Regions from separate parts of the Homo sapiens genome. Here region 2 is linked to region 1. Evidence: fine-mapped expression QTL. A gene starts in region 1. The other region holds a variant in brackets. All regions are shown on one strand. Distances are from middle to middle.

The links. PIP is the estimated chance that this variant, and not a neighbour inherited with it, causes the effect.
Region 2: its variant is the best candidate, but not a certain one, in a credible set for the expression of ARHGAP5 in whole blood (INTERVAL, PIP 0.50).

The regions. Positions count from the first base shown.
Region 1 is chr14:32,074,465-32,079,697 of GRCh38, reverse strand. It overlaps ARHGAP5 (Rho GTPase activating protein 5), which reads right to left and starts at 2,394. Exons shown (of 7, transcript NM_001030055.2): 1 at 2,263-2,394. ARHGAP5-AS1 (ARHGAP5 antisense RNA 1 (head to head)) reads left to right here and starts at 2,999. Exons shown (of 1, transcript NR_027263.1): 1 at 2,999-4,279. RefSeq lists silencers at 2,041-2,335, 2,134-2,353, 2,714-2,973.
Region 2 is chr14:32,129,992-32,135,224 of GRCh38, reverse strand. The region is part of intron 3 of ARHGAP5 (Rho GTPase activating protein 5); the gene reads right to left. Among named protein-coding and RNA genes, the nearest start is that of ARHGAP5, 55 kb to the right of the region's middle. The variant C/T (reference allele first, on the strand shown) is at 2,042.

The sequences.
Region 1 (5,233 bases):
TGCCAATGTTGGTAAAGTTTAGTAAAGTCTTTATGAGACCTAACTTTTTCTTCAATTAAAAAAAGTGAGTTAGAAAACTTATTATCGCTACTTCAAATCCAAAAAAGGAATGCAAATACAATATTCATTCCTTAAATAATCTTAACTTTCAAGGTCAAAATAACTCTCCAAAAAAATGACTGTGCTAATATGCTTTTCAAACACAAATAAGAAGGGGAGACGGTTTTCAAAACATTTAGGATAAGTATCTTGTGACAGAATTAAGGTAATAATTTTGCAACACATTTTAAAAATTGCTAAGGTCGTTTAAATGGGGAGGGACACTACAAAACTCATAAAGATAACAGAATTCTGCCGCAATTCTTACATCAAAGTGTAACCCACCTCACTCCCCAGTACTCTTAATAATTAATGTACAAAGAATGGCAAAATAAGACATGTTGATCTAGGTTTAAAAACACAGCCTACACAAGACAACCAAATCAATAGTTATTTAATCATCTGTACCGTCTGATTCTGCTTTAAGTCAATTAGATCAATAGTGCTATTTCTTGAAAGTTACAAGCATAGGTATGCGCAGCCTTTCACTCCAGTGCGTTTAGTCATAAATTGCTCCAGTGTCTTTGCAAGTTTTTGGTGACACATACTTACCGCTCTTTGTACTACAGATAAAGGTAATGGAGGTCAATTAGTATACAAAGGATAGATGAAAGCAAAAAATGAGAAAGGAATTTAAAATGAAAGCAAAATCTTACTCAAGAAACTATCTAGTAGGTTACCTAGACGGTTAGTAATACTTATCTACAAACACTGAATAAGAATACCGTTTTATCGTATTACAGTACAAATAAACTAGAATTGACAGCAAAAGGTTTCATTAACGTATTTTTAAACCAAACATTATTCCAAATGTCTAATCGCTGCATCTAGATGAAATTTTTGTTAGGAGAACCATTTTAAGTGGAAATGTAGAGCAAGCTCCCATGAAGTGAACGAGATCCTTCATGCGGATAAACACCACCTAACATTCTAACTGAATACTGGTTCTGGATTTAAGTGGAATTGACAAACTCGCCCCCCGCCCCTACCTGTAGAAAGCAACATAAGCAAGTACTAGTAAATACAGCGAAGCATTTTGCTGTTTTACACCTGAACATTTAAAAAAAAATTCAGTTTCCTGCCTATCACAAAGGAAAAAATAAATGATCGATAAGAATTTAAACTTAAAACGTAAGCACAAACCCATCTATATGCCTATCTTGCTCTATCTCAAAATATTTGAATTCCCATTTATTAAGCGATGGCCAAATCCGAATTTCTATCACATGGTAGAAGTATAAGCGTCTCCCCTACAACTTTTTCGGGATTTTACTAAACGGCCTAATAACAGTTTGCCCTTACTTCCGTGCACCTTTCAACCTCAGCTACACCCCGAGCCTCCAGCTCTCTTGCATTTCTAATAACGCTGAAGAGGGAGGGTGAGAGGGAGTATTTCTGTGTGGATAAGTGCGCGCGCGCTCCCGCGCGGCTCCCCACCCCCACCCCGATACTTTTCTTTAGTGGAAAGAGAGGAAGAATCTGGAGGTTATTCTAGCGAAAACTCAGTATCAAAGCCTCAACCCAGTCGCAGTCAGCCCATAGGACTCTGGGCTCTGGATGCGCAGTGCAACTTCTCATATCTTACTCCAAGCTTCAAAGCAGATGGAAAATTGGTGAAGAGAACCCAGGGAGGAGTCGAGGAGATGAGGGAAAGTGAAAGGGCCGATCCCCCCTACAAGGCGTTTAAGTTTGCAACCGAGACTGTGTTTCCGCGAATCTGCACCCGCCCCGTGTACCCTTTCCAGGTGGAACTCGTTAACAGCAGCAACCCGGCCAACGGACACCGCCACCTCCCCTCTCGACGGACCACCCGAGACTCGAGCAAGTGAGGCGGCGGGCGAGAGCGGACGCCTGGCGGGGCCGGCGATCCCCGGCCAGCATCAGGCCTCCGCCGACCCTGGCCCCGTCACCTGTGGAGAAAGCACCCCCTCCCCCGGCCTCTCTGCCCTTCACGCCGAACGTATCCCTAACGCTGCAGCTGCTGCCCGCCCGGCCTGCGAAAACCGAGCGCAGCGCCAGGCTCCCCTCGGCGGCCGCGGGGCCCCAGCCCCTTCAACTGGTTACAACCGGCAGCGGCGACCGAGCGGGGCAGCTAGCCGCAGGAGGGTCCCCGTCCGGGAGGGGGCAGGCAGGCTTGGAGGAGCGGGGTCCGCAAGGTCCTACCTAACAACGTCGGTCTCCTCCGTCTCCTCCTCAACGGCAGCGGCCCCGGCGGTGGCGGCGGCAGCGACATTCCTGGGGACCGCTCCCGCCGCCGCCGCCTCCTCCTCCACTCTCCGCTCGCCTCTCTTCCTCGGCGCGCTCACCGAGCGGCGCGTCCCTTCAGCCACCTCCCCCCGCCCTCCCCGACACACACGCCCCGAAACCCTGAGCCCCACGGCTCCCGCAGCCAGCTCACCCACCCTCCCTCCCTCCCTCCCCGCCACCAGCGGCGGCCCGTCCCTCCCCCCTTCCCCAGCGCCCGCCGCCGCGCCGGGCTCAGTAATGGCGGCCACTCGGGCTCCCTCGCGCTGACGGATTTCTCTCCCTCTCTCCCGAACTTTACCTCAGCATCTCTCCCGGCGCGCGCAGCCACACACCCGACCGGGGGCGGAGCGGCGGCGCGGCGGCGCAGCCTGGACGGGACGCGCGCGCGCGCGCGAACCCGCGCTGCCCTCCCCACAATCCCCCGTCCCCGCCCCTTCACCTCGCGACGCCTCCCGCGCCGCGCACCCGGCACGGCCCCGCCCCTGCCCTCGTCTCCCGGGAGCCTGGGAAGGCGCGAGCTATCCAGTCGGAGGGAGGGGGACGAGCGCGCGGGGCCGCGTCCTCGCTCGCGTCCCCGCTCCCTCCTCCCCTCTGCTTCTCCCTCCCCTCCACTCCCCCATTGGCTTCTACCCCTCCCCCTTCTTCCTCCGCCTCTCCCACCATTGGTTCCCTCCCCTACTCCATTCCTTCTCACCTTTTCCCTTTTACCCATTGGCGTGAGTATTTTTCCTCAGCTTCCCTCTTTCTCCGTATTCTGCTCCTCCTCAGTCCCATCCTCCACGCTTTGGAAGCTACTGCCTTACTGCCCGGAGCGCCGTCGTCCCCGAACCTCCCCTGCTTCTCCCTTTCCTTCTGTTCCGGTTTCTGGTCGTAACTCAAGAGCAAACCACCGTACTGCAAAGGAACCAGATATTGTGCTCGCGGTTCCAAACCGGGCATGGGCACCGAATGCTTCTCGATAAATCCCCTTATGGTCTCTGAGCATTAAAGAAAGCAAGGGAGGAAAACATGCGCCCAAGCTCGTTCGCAGGAACATGTTCGCGTGTCTGCGCCTGTGTGCGCAGCCAGTTTTCTGGCTGAGGATCGCTCGCCAACTACAGACATCACCCGCCCAGGACCCGGTGCCACACTCACCCAGAAGACGAAACTCCACAGGAGCGAGAAGAGGAGTCCATTTCTCCGTCGGCTCGGCACGGCACGGGGATGCAGGCCCCTGATTCAGTACGTTCTGTGAAAGTGGAGCGAGAAGCCAAGACGTGGATCGAGAAGCCCCGTGGGGCGGGTCTCAGGGTGGCCCAAAAGACCCCTGTTCACGCCACTACCAGCCTAACTTTAGGAACTGTCGTCCACCTGGCTTTTATTATACTGCCTTAAACATATTCACTTTTTTGAGACTCTAGAAATTTCACAAGTTTTGGGGTAGAGCACACTGGGCTTTGGGTGTGTTTCTCATGAGGGCACTGACGCTGAATGGTGCAGTGAGAAAGGACGGTAGAAACCACTGCCTTTGCTTTTACCATTGAAGAAACTGAGGTCCTGTGACTTTCCCGAGGTCATCGGAATCTGCCTTGCACAGGAGACTTAAAATAGTTGCCAGCAGATAAAAGAATGAGCAAAACCACATCTACTCCAATTTGTTAAGTCTGAAAGAAAGTAATTGAGGGGGGATTCCTCTTTGGGGAAATATTTATTTCCTGCATTGAAAATAGTTTAATGTTAGTAAACATATAAAAAGTATTTTAAATTCAAGTTATTCTTTATTTCTTATGTTACATAAGGTACTGAAGTTAGCCAAGGTTGCTTTTGTGTTATAATGATGCAGCTGCTGCCAACCAGAAGTACATTTACGGTCTGTCAGTAAAGAAAACAAAAACTGCCTGTTGGTAAAAATCTATTAGAAAATATTTGTCAGTAAATTTGTCACAATATTCCAGCAGAAGTTCTGTTCGTTTTTCCGTCTTCCTGCCCTTCATATTTCTCAAAGGTAGACTTAATAAAGGTAGAAGAGACATTTCTAATTTTTCTATATATCTCTTGCTCCCTAATTTCTAAAAGGCATAACTAAAATGCTTTATTCGAGCCACTCCCTTGCATCTGAACCCTACCTACCAAGTAGGTTAAGAGTAGGTTAGGTAAGGTCTGTAGCTACTTCTTTCTTTCAGTTACAAATTGTAGGTGGGAAAGAAGGATGCGGAAGGAAACTTGCAAGGAAAGCAAACAGAAAGAAAAAGAAGTAAAAAAGGAGAGAAGGGAATTTGGTGGGTGGTCCAACCATCAAAATGTGGTACTAATGCCATAGGTATCTACACCACTTATGTAAGTTGGAATGTTGATGCATTCCAACGCATGTTTTTATCTTTGTACTGAAAGCCCTTAAGAATACCCGAAGTAAACATATAAAAAGTATTTTAAGTTCAAGTTATTCTTTATTTCTTATGTTACGTAAGGTACTGAAGTTAGCCAAGGTTGCTTTTTAGTGTTATAATGATGCAGTTCAAAGTCATAACCTGAATAAGATGTTAAGTACTATAGAGTGTACACCCTAAAGATACCTTAAAAATTATGTCCTAAATAATCAGAAATTTTAATAATCATGGACATGTATCAACATAAACCAAAGCCAAATAAATCAGGGCTTCTAAAGAAAACGTTAAAAAGGTGTAATGTTCAGTTATAGGACATGATACTGGAGGCAGGGAAGACTTGAAATCTCATTTATTTTCTTATAATGAAGACACCAGAAGACGTTAAAAAAAAAAAAAAGATCACGATTTCCAAACAATGATTTTCATAGTCGACATTATTTTCAGTTCTTTATCTTGATTTAGGGAGCCTGGAAATTTAGGACTTCGTTTCTTATTAATACTAATAGTCTAAAGGTGTTTAC
Region 2 (5,233 bases), 56 kb before region 1:
AAAAAAGCCTCAATTCCTGGGCAATGAAAGTTTGGTATTTTTTCTTTCTAGGCACTCAATACTTTTTAATAGGAAAACTTTGGGAGTGATGAGACAACTGGATTGGAAGGAACAAAATAAATGCTATATACTGAGTCTTCCCTGTAAAACAGATGTTAAGACAAACAATGCTGGGAATGGACAAGCATGGGCAATTAATGGTATGTGGGCACAATGGGTGAAAAAGACAGATTAATGAGATACCTGAGGCCTGGACAACTGGGAGAATTAAATATAAGAATGAAATATAAGAACACTCTGGAATGTGAGAGATAAAGATCTGGGAGTCATTCTTGTAAACGTGATGGCTCAGGCCCAATAGCAAATATAAATCAGACATGCATAAATGACATCAACAGTAAACGGAATGGCTATAAATTACTCAAACTACTTAAAGATACACTTAGGATAAGCAAAAGACAAACACATGAAGACATACTATGATGAGACATTGTGATGATATTTTTATTTCAAACAAGATTTAATGTTCCTTAAATGCCCACTCTGTGCTGTGTTTAGAGTATGTATGTGTGATACAAGACATAAAATATATTGTCCCTGATACTGTATAGTTCAATAGGCCGGCTATTTTGAGTTTTAAAACAACAGCTGAAGTAAATGTGTTCATGCTGTTTTTAATGATGCATTACTAATGGGGCTTCACTTAAGCTAAGTGAAGTGAGATTTTTCACATGCTAAAAAGCTGATAGGGATGAAGTAACATCAATAGAGCAAGAGTTTTTTGCGGTGATACTTGACATTTCAGGCACAATGCCATTACAGGAATAAGACAAAAAGCAGTATTTTCTTTTCTCAATTTATCAAAAACGAGTTTCTTAAAATTCCATGTGGGGAGGGGGATACATATATTATGATAAATTCAGTTTATTGAACTAAAATGTGTCACTACTTTCTAGTCAAATAAAATTTAGGAATATTCTGCAAAAAAAGGCTTTGAATTTTTTCATGAAAAAATTCATGACATGAAAACATACCCACAAGATTAGAAAACTATTCTAAATTAAAGAAGACTAAAGAAGTATGACAAGCCCACTTGATCATGGTGGATAAGCTTTCTGACGTGCTGCTGGATTCGGTTTGCCAGTATTTTATTGAGGATTTTTGCATTGATGTTCATCAAGGATATTGGTCTAAAATTCCCTTTTTTAGTTGTGTCTCTGCCAGGCTTTGGTATCGGGATGAAGCTGGCCTCATAAAATGAGTTAGGGAGGATTCCCTCTTTTTCTATTGATTGGACATCCCTGGGATGCAAGGCTGGTTCAATACATGCAAATCAATAAATGTAATCCAACATATAAACAGAACCAAAGACAAAAACCACATGATTATCTCAATAGATGCAGAAAAGGCCTTTGACAAAATTCAAAAACCCTTCATGCTAAAAACTCTCAATAAATTAGGTATTGATGGGATGTATCTCAAAATAATAAGACCTATCTATGACAAACCCACAGCCAATATCATACTGAATGGGCAAAAACTGGAAGCATTCCCTTTGAAAACGGGCACAAGACAGGGATGCCCTCTCTCACCACTCCTATTCAACACGGAGTTGGAAGTTCTGGCCAGGGCAATCAGGCAGGAGAAGGAAATAAAGGGTATTCAATTAGGAAAAAGAGGAAGTCAAACTGTCCCTGTTTGCAGATGACATGATTGTATATCTAGAAAACCCCATTGTCTCAGCCCAAAATCTCCTCAAGCTGATAAGCAACTTCAGCAAAGTCTCAGGATACAAAATCAATGTGCAAAAATCAAAAGCATTCTTATGCACCAATAACAGACAGAGAGCCAAATCATGAGTGAACTCCCATTCACAATTGCTTCAAAGAGAATAAAATACCAGGAATCCAACTTACAAGGGATGTGAAGGACCTCTTCAAGGAGAACTACAAACCACTGCTCAAGGAAATAAAAGAGGATACAAACAAATGGAAGAACATTCCATGCTCATGGGTAGGAAGAATCAATATCGTGAAAATGG[C/T]CATATTGCCCAAGGTAATTTATAGATTCAATGCCACCCCCATCAAGCTACCAATGACTTTCTTCACAGAATTGGAAAAAACTACTTTAAAGTTCATATGGAACCAAAAAAGAGCCTGCATCGCCAAGTCAATCCTAAGTCAAAAGAACAAAGCTGGAGGCATCACACTACCTGACTTCAAACTATGCTACAAGGCTACAGTAACCAAAACAGCATGGTACTGGTACCAAAACAGACATACAGACCAATGGAACAGAACAGAGCCCTCAGAAATAATGCCACATATCTACAACTATCTGATCTTTGACAAACCTGACAAAAACAAGCAATGGGGAAAGGATTCCCTATTTAATAAATGGTGCTGGGAAAACTGGCTAGCCATATGTACAAAGCTGAAACTGGATCCCTTCCTTACACCTTACACAAAAATCAATTCAAGATGGATTAAAGACTTAAATGTTAGACCTAAAACCATAAAAACCCTAGAAGAAAACCTAGGCATTACCATGCAGGACATAGGCATGGACAAGGACTTCATGTCTAAAACACCAAAAGCAATGGCAACAAAAGACAAAATTGACAAATAGGATCTAATTAAACTAAAGAGTTTCTGCACAGCAAAAGAAACTACCATCAGAGTGAACAGGCAACCTACAAAATGGGAGAAAATTTTCACAACCTACTCATCTGACAAAGGGCTAATATCCAAAATCTATAATGAACTCAAACAAATTTACAAGAAAATAACAAACAACCCCATCAAAAAGTGGGCAAAGGACATGGACAGACACTGCTCAAAAGAAGACATTTATGCAGCCAGAAAACACATGTAAAAATGCTCACTATCACTGGCCATCAGAGAAATGCAAATCAAAACCACAATAAGATACCATCTCACACCAGTTAGAGTGGCAATCATTAAAAAGTCAGGAAACAACAGGTGCTGGAGAGGATGTGGAGAAATAGGAACACTTTTACACTGTTGGTGGGACTCTAAACTGGTTCAACCATTGTGGAAGTCAGTGTGGCGATTCCTCAGGGATCTAGAACTAGAAATACCATTTGACCCAGCCATCTCATTACTGGGTATATACCTAAAGGATTATAAATCATGCTGCTATAAAGACACATGCACCTGTATGTTTATTGCGGCACTATTCACAATAGCAAAGACTTGGAACCAACCTAAATGTCCAACAAGGACAGACTGGATTAAGAAAATGTGGCACATATACACCATGGAATACTATGCAGCCATAAAAAATGATGAGTTCATGTCCTTTGTAGGGACATCAATGAAACTGGAAACCATCATTCTCAGCAAACTATCGCAAGGACAAAAAACCAAACACCGCATGTTCTCACTCATAGGTGGGAACTGAATAATGAGAACACGTGGACACAGGAAGGGGAACATCACACACCGGGGACTGTTGTGGGGTTGGGGGAGTGGGGAGGGATAGCATTAGGAGATATACCTGATGCTAAATGACCAGTTAATGGGTGCAGCACACCAACATGGCACATGTATACATATGTAACAAACCTGCACGTTGTGCACATGTACCCTAAAACTTGAAGTATAATAATAACAAAAAACAAAAAACAAAAACAAAAACAAACAAACAAAAAGAACATGAAATGGTGGTTGCCAGTGGCTGGAGGAAGGGAGAAATGGGGGGGTTGGCGTTTCATAAAAATACAGTTTCAGTTTTTCCAAATGCAAAAGTTCTAGAGATTGGGTGCACAACAATGTGAATGTATTTACTACTGAAATGTATATTTCAAAATGGTTAACATGACACATTTTACGTTATGTATCTTTTAATACAATTATAAATTGATTTTAACAAAATTAACACAATTAATACAAATCTTAGAAATGCAAAAATAAAATAAAATAAAGACAAACCTAAAAAAAAAAAAAAAAAGAAGTATGACAAGAAAAGTAATACATGATTCTTGCTGGGACCTTGGATTGATACAACAAAAAAGCTCTAAGAGGACACCGTTGAGACAACTGGGAGAATTTGATTACAGACATTATATTAGACAATAGAATTGTATCAATATTAAATTTCCTAAACATGTATTTATTTTGCAGTTATGTGAAGAGAATGTTCTTGTTAGTGGGGAAATCTATGCTAAATGACTTGGAGGTGAAGTGTCATGCCGTTTTTAACTGAATTTCACATTGTTCAGCACCTCCCACCAGCCTCCCAAAAAGCTGGAGAACTGTGGTAAAAAGTTTACTCGGTGAATCTAGAGAAGGGTAAACAAATGCTCAATCATACTATTCTTGTAACATTTCTAAAGGTCCCAAAATTTTGAAAAATGTGAGAAAATGAAAACAGGCTGGGTGCGGTGGCTCATGCCTGTAATCCCAGCACTTTGGGAGGCCGAGGCAGGTGGATCACAAGGCCAGGAGTTTGAGACCAGCCTGGCCAATATGGTGAAATCCCATCTCTACTAAAAATGCAAAAATCAGCGGGGTGTGGTGGCACGTGCCTGTAGTCTCAGGAGGCTGAAGCAGGAGAATCGTTTGAACCCAGGAGGCGGAGGTTGCAGTGAGCTGAGATCGCGCCACTGCACTCCAGACTGGGCGACAAAGCGAGACTCCATCTCAAAATCAATCAATCAATCAATCAATCAATCAATGCCAGGTTGGGCATGGTGGTTCACACCTGTAATCCCAGCACCTTGGGAGGCCGAGGTGGAAGGATGACTGGAGGTCAGGAGTTCCAGACCAGCCTGGCAACATGATGAAACCCCTTCTCTATTAAAAAAAAAAAAAAACCCAAAAAATTAGCCTGGTGTGATAGCAGGCACCTGTAATCCCAGCTACTCAGGAGTCTGAGGCAGGAGAATCACTTGAACCTGGGCGGTAGAGGTTGCAGTGAGCCGAGATCCCACCACTACACTCCAGCCTGGGGGACACAGTGAGACTCCATCTCAAAAAAAAAAAAAAAAAAAATCCCTTATGAATGCAAGGGATTCAACAAACAAATTTACTAGGTAAATTGGAAATATAAGATGATCACTTAAGCTGCTTAAGATATGTGGTCATATATATATATTTTATTACATATATATTTTATTACATATATATGTATTTACTTCAGAGGCAGAGTCTCACTCTGTTACCCAGGCTGGAATGCAGTACTGTGATCATGGCTCACTGCAACCTCAAAT